Linked DNA regions of Homo sapiens: region 2 is linked to region 1. The links come from fine-mapping of genetic effects on gene expression. Tissue or cell type: whole blood. Region 1 holds a variant in brackets; the other region holds the start of a gene. All regions are shown on one strand. Distances are from middle to middle.

The links. PIP is the estimated chance that this variant, and not a neighbour inherited with it, causes the effect.
Region 2: it holds the start of CD101-AS1, and the variant in region 1 is fine-mapped to the expression of CD101-AS1 in whole blood (INTERVAL, PIP 0.95).

Annotation. Positions count from the first base shown.
Region 1 is chr1:117,016,970-117,021,185 of GRCh38, forward strand. CD101 (CD101 molecule) reads left to right here. Exons shown (of 10, transcript NM_001256106.3): 5 at 121-504; 6 at 1,187-1,591. It overlaps LOC124904386 (a long non-coding RNA gene), which reads right to left. Exons shown (of 2, transcript XR_007066499.1): 1 at 2,143-4,216; 2 at 1,124-1,465. Among named protein-coding and RNA genes, the nearest start is that of CD101, 17 kb to the left of the region's middle. RefSeq lists an enhancer at 663-1,862. The variant G/T (reference allele first, on the strand shown) is at 2,203.
Region 2 is chr1:117,057,599-117,061,814 of GRCh38, forward strand. It overlaps CD101-AS1 (CD101 antisense RNA 1), which reads right to left and starts at 1,892. Exons shown (of 4, transcript NR_110786.1): 1 at 1,775-1,892. It overlaps TTF2 (transcription termination factor 2), which reads left to right and starts at 2,728. Exons shown (of 23, transcript NM_003594.4): 1 at 2,728-2,776; 2 at 2,857-2,959. The coding sequence starts at 2,749. RefSeq lists a silencer at 1,799-1,848 and an enhancer at 2,269-2,428.

The sequences.
Region 1 (4,216 bases):
ACAGCCCAATTTGACTTGTCACAAACTAGTCAAGTCCTAATTAATGAAATTTCACTGTATTTTAGAACATTTCTTATTTACCTAAAACAGTTTTGTTCTTCTATAATCTGTAACTCACAGCAAGAAGTGTGGTCATGTCTACCAAGAACAAGCAGCAAGTTGTGTGGGAAGGAGAGACACTCGCCTTTCTCTGTAAGGCTGGTGGAGCTGAAAGTCCCCTGTCTGTGAGCTGGTGGCACATCCCACGGGACCAGACACAGCCCGAGTTTGTGGCTGGCATGGGGCAGGATGGCATTGTGCAGCTGGGTGCCTCCTATGGGGTACCCAGTTACCATGGCAACACAAGGCTGGAGAAAATGGACTGGGCCACCTTCCAGCTGGAGATCACCTTCACTGCCATCACAGACAGTGGCACATATGAGTGCAGAGTATCTGAGAAGTCTCGGAACCAGGCCAGAGATCTGAGCTGGACTCAGAAGATTTCAGTTACTGTAAAGTCTCTGGGTAAGTGTCAAAGGAAGTCCTTTTCTGCACCTGTATATCACTCAATTCATTCTGCAGTGGAACTGGATTGCGTGTTATCCTGAATCCCCCAGTGATGGTATGTGTACCCTAGGACACAGAGCTAGTCTCTGGCTACCCTCTCTGTCAATTAATCTTTAAAGATTCTTCATTTTTGTAAAGATCATCTTTAGAGTGCAACTTGTAAATTGTTGTTCAAGGTTAAAAACAAAATCCTATGGATCAGCTTATAGACGAGTATAGCTGAGCCTCTTACCTTCTGGCTTTTGACAGCTGTGGCCCTGGGATTGCAGAGCCCATTGAAGCATGTGCAAAAGGGTTCTGATACTGAACCCACGCATGGGGGTAAGGGAAGGAGGCCAGACGACTAGGGTGGGGAGTGCTCCACCCACTCAGCAGCAGCTGTCTAAGTAGCAGATTGGAGAAACACTGCCTATTTGTTGTGGCTGCTGGGAACAGTCTTAGAAAAGGATCAACTTTGCAAAATTGAGGTCACAGTTCAGGACAGACTGTACTGGGAATCAATTTCTACTCTATAAAATAGGAAACTCCAAATGTACAAATGCATGGTCCTAGTCAAAGAGGTGGCAACTAGAAAAACTTGAAAGTGCTATATTTTAATCTGGTAAATATATTAGAAATTCTGTTTCATTTTTCTGTCTAGAGTCAAGTTTACAAGTTAGTCTGATGAGCCGTCAGCCGCAAGTGATGTTAACCAACACCTTTGACCTGTCCTGTGTCGTGAGGGCCGGTTACTCTGACCTCAAGGTGCCACTCACTGTGACGTGGCAGTTCCAGCCAGCTAGCTCTCACATCTTCCACCAGCTTATTCGAATCACCCACAATGGCACTATTGAATGGGGGAATTTCCTATCCCGGTTCCAAAAGAAGACGAAAGTGTCGCAGTCTTTATTTCGTTCACAACTCCTAGTCCATGATGCCACTGAGGAAGAGACAGGAGTGTATCAGTGTGAAGTAGAAGTTTATGACAGAAATTCCCTATACAACAACCGCCCCCCGAGGGCTTCTGCCATCTCTCACCCACTGAGGATAGCCGTCACTTTACCAGGTAAGTGTGACTTGAAATTAATCCCTGTTTTAAAAACAAACAAATAGCAATCCTCCCATTTTGGGTAAGTTATAACAATAAAACATAAAATACTTTCTCCCATATTTGTTCTATCTAAGTAAGCACCACATGATGAATGATACCCAGGTTAACATTGAGTTAGTATGCATGGGTTGGCCATACTGGTTGTTAAAACATTGAAATACCTTCCATGCTGGCTAATTGCTGCTCTCTACCCATTCCCCATTTTCCCCTAAGTTCCCACCACCCAGCAACTAAAGGGTACCACGTGGCACAGCAGGGGGCCTCTAGGACCTGGCTAGAGGGGAGAAGAAATGTTTTGGATTAGTCACTGTCCAGGCCTTACCAGTTAGTAAACATTTGCAGTGTCTCTGCTAGTGGTAGGGATAAGGTAAATTCCACTGGAATACATCCACCTACTTCTTTGTAAGGTGTTAATGTATAAGAGTCAGAGAATTTATTATTACAATCAAATATAATCCATCTCATCAACTGATAATAGAGCATAGGAGTTAAAAGTGAGATACTACCTAGGCAAAGTTCTGCTGTGTCATGTATCTTCTCTCTTATAGTTTGCATTCTCTTAGGAA[G/T]AGTGATGGAGAGACGTTGGAGTCATTTAGATCTGACAGTCACTGGATAGCAGAACAGCTTTGGATGAGACACTTAATCTGCTGAAGCCTTAGTTACCTGATCTGTAAATTGTTAATGTGCAATTTAAATATGGTGACATATATAACATGCCGAGTACCTGACACACCAAGATGACGCTCAAACGTGGTCACTGTCATTATTCTCTCTGCTGCTGTGCAACATTTTTGGTAATAGTAATGATCCCCTTGTTCATGAATTCATGCTTAATTAATTTGTCCTCTCTGTGGTATTTGCAATTGCTGCCCCAATCTGTCTTCTTGAAACTTCTTTTTTCCTTGGCACCATGACACAAGATTTTCATTTTCTCCTCCACTGATTTATTCTTTAAAGAAAACAGTTTCTCTGGATTCTATTCTTAGCTTTGTTCTCTTTTCATTCTATACGCTCTCCTGCAGTGGACTCGTCCCTACCCATGGATACAAGCTGTATGTTCACAACTCCCACATTCATTATCTTGACCAATTTCTCTTCTGATCTCCAGACTCGTATATCCAGCTGTCTCCAAGACATGCCTGCACTCATTATGTCAAAACATAAACCCACCATTATCATCCAAAGCTCTTTCTTCTGCATTGCCCCTTATGTCCCCACTCCTCACCAGTGACCCAAGTTGAAAACCTGAGTCATCACAACTCTTATGTTCACCTTGTATCTAAACTCCCACAGTGTGACATGCAAGGTCCTTTATCATCTGGTACATTTGTGTCTTTCCAGCATCATCTCCTTCAACTTTCCATCGTGAATTTGAGCTTCAGCCACACTGAATTACTGGCAGCTCCTCAATTGTCCATGTTCCCTCTCACTCTCAAAGTCTTTGATCTAGTTGCATCTTTTGTGTGGCAATCCTTAACCTCTTCTCCATCGGAATAATTCCTATAAACCCTTAAGACTCAGCTCAGAATTATCTCCTCCAGGAAGTCTCCCCTCACTCCTGTATTTGGGCTAGGAGACCCTGCTGTGTGCTCAGATAGGCACTTCTATATACCTCTGTCTTACATGAGGGACATGAGGAACAAAAATTTTACACTGAGGCCAGGTGTGGTGGCTCACACCTGTAATCCCACACTTTGGGAGGCCAAGGCGGGCAGATCACCTGAAGTCAGGAGTTTGAGACCAGCCTGGCCAACATAGTGAAACCCCGTCTCTACTGAAAATGCACAGATTAGCCAGGCATGGTGGCGTGCACCTGTAGTCCCAGCTACTCAGGAGGCTGAGGCACAAGGATCGCTTGAGCACAGGAAGTGGAGGTTGCAGTGAGCCAAGATCATGCCACTGCACTCCAGCCTGGGCGACAGAGCAAGACTCCATCTCAAACAAAACAAAACAACCAAAAATCTCACACTTGAGAAAGGTTTCTCAAGAGTTATTTCAGCTGCACATTCTAAATGTGGAAGACAGTGATCAGGGCAAATATCACTGTGCTGTGGTAGAATGGCTCTTTGTCTACAAATGGCACTTGGCACCATCTCTAAGCCTCTGTCCCTGCACTTGTCTCCCTCTAGAGTGTGAGCCACTGAGGGAAGATATCCACAGGGCCTGGAATTGTCTGGCACATAATATAGTGTGTGCTTCATAAATATTTGTTGAAGGAAGAGTAAAGGGACCTATGGGCAACATCAATAAGCAGTTAAAAAAGTAGAGTGGGTGATGTCAGCAAGATGCTAGAAGAAGATTTGGGAACAAGGATTGTCACTCATCTTTCTGACAAAGCAGAAAAGCTGCTGGGGTCAAAGATTAGTTGGCTCCATATCTATACAATGTTCCCACAGTTAAGTGACTGCAAAGACACACACAGTTTTAATCACTCATGTACAACTTCCTTTTGTTTACCCACGTTTGAAGGCAGATACAACTAGAGTTTGGAAATTGTGAATCCAGAAGTACTCTGCATAGTAAACACACAAACACAGCATTAATAGGGCCACTTTCTCCCAATCTGATACATGAAATATG
Region 2 (4,216 bases), 41 kb after region 1:
CAGCCTTATTAAGGTATAATTTAGATGTCATAGAATTCACCTATTTAAAGTGTACAATTCAAAGAGTCTAGTAAATTTAATCAATTGTGCACCCATTACCACAATCCAGTTTTAGAACAATTCCAACATATACTTTGCATTTGACCAGCTCCATACTGAACAAATTTATTGGATAATTAACCTGTGCATTTTAAGCCATCTAAATCTAGGACCCAGCCTAGACATTATTTTGAATAAATCAAGCTTTAAGGAAAAACAAACTCTAAACTTTACTCAAAATAGAGATCCATAAAGCACATTCTCCCAAGGTCTCTCCGGGGGTCTGTAGGCTAATTAACAATATAAATTTAAAATATAAATTAAGAATAAAAATTAATACACATACACCAATACATGTGTATATTTTGAAAAGTGTATGTTGTATAATTCATTATTATTTATTTCAATAGGCATAAGTTTTTTTTTAAGAGACAAAGTTTCACTCTGTCACCAAGGCTAGAGTGCAGTGGCACAATCACAGCTCACTGTAGCCTCAAACTTGTGGGCTCAAGCCATCCTCCCACCTCAGCCTCCTGAGTAGCTAGGACCGCAGGTGCCCACCACCATACTCAACGGGCATAAAAATTAATTTTAAAAATGTTTCCAGTTATGACCATCTTTCGTCCAATCTCAAACTTATTTTTTTCAATCTTGTAAATATGATGAGGTGGAATAAGTTGTCCAGGGACTTAACATTTTGATCTAGTATATTTTTAATTTATGGAAGAAATATTCCTCCTGTCTGTGATTTGGCTGTGCACACTTTTGTGAGGTTGGACTGGAGATACCGACTTGGGTACTTGCAGAGGAGGAGCTTCTTCCTTAACGGGATATTTAAGAGGCCCCGATTTTGCCTTGTTTCGAAAATTATTCAAGAAATAATTAATTACCATGCCCCTCTTTCTGCAAATCCTGTATTCATGGTATACTACCTCCAATACAGCATCTATTAAACATGTACAAATACATCATTTGCAAGAATAACAATCTTGGAATAATGAAAATGCTTCTACCTATTTGTTGTTCCTGTCTTATCTCTAAGTTCATCTAAGTTTCGGAAGGGTAGTTATGTATAAAGGAACTTCACTTTGGAAATTCCATTTTTCTCTAGTCCTAGAGAGTTACTGCTAACTCCATTCATTTTGACATTTAAATACTATTTTATATTGTTATTTAAGTGTTCAACATGTACTAGTTCAGTCTCCTCAAAATACTGAGTAAGTTCCTTGTGCTTAGAATAGTTGTTTCAAACTTTGTGTGTGTGAATGAATGAATTTTACATTTCTCAAGCACCTAGTCCACAACGGGCACAAAAAAGCTATTTAGTAAGTACTGTTTAATTAATAAATGATACCTCAGGTTTGTCTCCCTTCCTCCGGATCCCCATAACATGTACATTTATCACATCGCCCAGATTTCCTAGACATTACAGATTTTCTGTTCTACGGCCCCCATAAGAACAGTGCAGGTGCCACACCATATGTCTGGGACATATGGTCCTCAATAGCTGCAATATGAAACTATTTCTATTGCAATAAATCTAATATCTATTCCTCTCTGTTTACTAATAGTTTTGATTACAACTTCAAATTTTAAAAATCGAGGATGAAGTTAAATAGAAGGGAACTGTCCCCTTTCTTCTATTTAACCTCGTCTTCGATTTTTAAAATTACAAAAGCATAATAGTAAAAAAAAGTTTGACAATACAAAATGATAAAGTAAAATTCGCCTTCACCAAAAGTCATCTATTTCCCCTTCTGTGGTTTCCACGTTGCGGCTGGTAACTCGGGGCTTCCACGCTGGGCGAGCCTAGAGAACATCCAGTACACACAGGAAGCAGCAGCGCGGGCCAAATGGCGCTGAGACCTGCGCACCTGTCCACGGACCGCCCACTCGCCAACTCTGACCTTGGGTGAGTCTCTCAAACTTGAGTCTCGGAATCTTCCACAAAATGCTACCCATCTCACCAGGTCGAGTGAGGAGGGTCGTGTTATGTGTAAGCACTTTGTGAAATCTAAAGCACGAGGCAAACGTAAAGCATTGTAGGGGGTCCTAGAGAAGTCTTTGTGCCTGCCTATCAGAGCCGTTTCAGTTCCCCGCAGCAGCTTCCAAGGACCTCCCACCATGCCCGCCGCTTCGGCTCCTGCACTGCAAATCTCGCGGCTCGGCCTGCAGCGGCGGCTTCCCCTGGCCTCCCACCCCAGCGACTGAGCGCGGAGCCCAGCGCGCACGAGCGCCAGCCTGGCTCAGAGACACCCACGAAGCCAGGGCCTTTCAGCGCCTGCTAACTGGCGCTACCCCTAGGGCCGCCTCTCGGTTTTAAACGTAAACAAGAGTTGCCCTTCCGTCTTCCAAGACCTGCAAATCGAAGCTTCTTTTCCTCCAGAAGCCCCGCCACCTTCTAAGCTTCTCCCCAGCCTCAGCCACGCCCCAGCCTGCAAAAGCCGGGTCCTTTACGCCCCCTGGCTCCGTATTTGATTTCGGCGCGCGCCATACCTGAGGGCAGCTGTGATTGGTTGGAGGTGAGCGAAGTTCCTATATGATTGGCTGATAGCGGCTAGGACGGGTGAAGGCCAAGGGCGGAGAATTATGGGAGGGATTAAGACTGCAAGAGCTGAGTGATGGTTGGTTCCTGAACAAAGAGGGCGGAGTAAAAGGCGGAAGCAGAATTGGGGGCGGGGCTTTGTGGAACTTGGGGGACCCAGCGAAATGGAAGAAGTTAGGTGTCCAGAGCACGGTAAGGGGCTAGGGTCTCAGCGTCCCGGGGCCTGTTGATTTAGCGTGGCGTAATCGTTGTTCACTTTCTTCTCTCTTCAGGGACTTTCTGCTTTCTTAAGACCGGCGTCCGCGATGGCCCGAATAAAGGAAAGAGCTTCTACGTGTGCCGGGCAGACACGTGCAGCTTCGTGCGGGCCACCGAGTAGGTCTGGAGCTGGGCCCCACTCCCTGTGGCTGCCCGGGGCCTCCCGAGAGGAGCTTCCCGCTCCCCGCTGTCGGGCGTCACAGGGCCGAGGAGTGGTGGGGCCCTAGTTTGCGGTGTCAGGACCCTTTAAGCAATTGGTGATCCCAGGGCAGCGTGGCGTGTTCGGAAGACGCCCAGCTAATTCTGGCTGTGTGACCCGAGGCTGGTTACCCCCCTCTCTGGGCCGATGGTTCCCCTACCTGTAAAATTGAGGATCCGGTGTTTTCCAGCTCTGGGTTTCTATTCACTTGACAGGCCTTAACCACTCCCTTCTCCTGCCCAGACAGTCCCTCCCCCTTTAAAGGAGTAAGGACACACAGCAGACATAGTGGAAAATAATTTGTCCCTGTTTTGCACTAGTTTTAGGCCCGACGGTTTTTTTTAAATGTTTGAGCTTAAAACACTCTAGTGATTAGTTGTTAGCCTTCTTATTTTTAAGTAGGATTCTCTGCATCTAAATGGTGAAATTGATAATTCAAAGAAATTAGCGCTGGAAGAAACAACGGAGGGCCTGGCGCGGTGTGTGACGCCTGTAATCCCAGCACTTTGGGAGGCGAAGGCGAGCGAATCGCTTGAGCCCAGGGGTTCGAAACCAGCCTGGGCAACATGGTGAAATCCCGTCTCTACGAAAAATTAAAAAAAATTGTCTAGGCATGGTATCACACGCCTGTAGTCCCAGCTACTCGTGAGGCTGAGGTGGGAGGAGAGAGTCAGAAATGTTAAGCATCTTCTCTAAAGTGAGGAAAGTTAATAGTTTGTCAAGTGTTAATGTTTTCACAGTACCAAGTGTCTACATTTTCTATGTGAATTTTAAAACTATCATCACATCATTAAACATCTCCTGCTCTCTATTCAGCAAAACTTGGTAGAGAAAAGTTATTTTTCTCCGTGTCAGATGTAGAGTACATAATGGATATCAGTATTAGAAAAGTGCCCTTTCAACATGTATACTAACTTCCCATGTTTCTGTTTCATGAGTTAGATGATTTACACTGAGCCTCTCAGATATAGTACCCAGGTCAAGTTTTGTGAGATAGAAGCATTTTTACCTTTGCAGGAATTCAACATTAATGGTGGCATAAGATTTGGTTTTACATTAAGAGAAACACTCTTATTTAGGATCCCATCTACACAAATGCTTTGCTATACAAACTAGCACAGTGGTATTTGAAGACAATTATTTGATAAACTTGATTTATTTGGACTATATCTGAT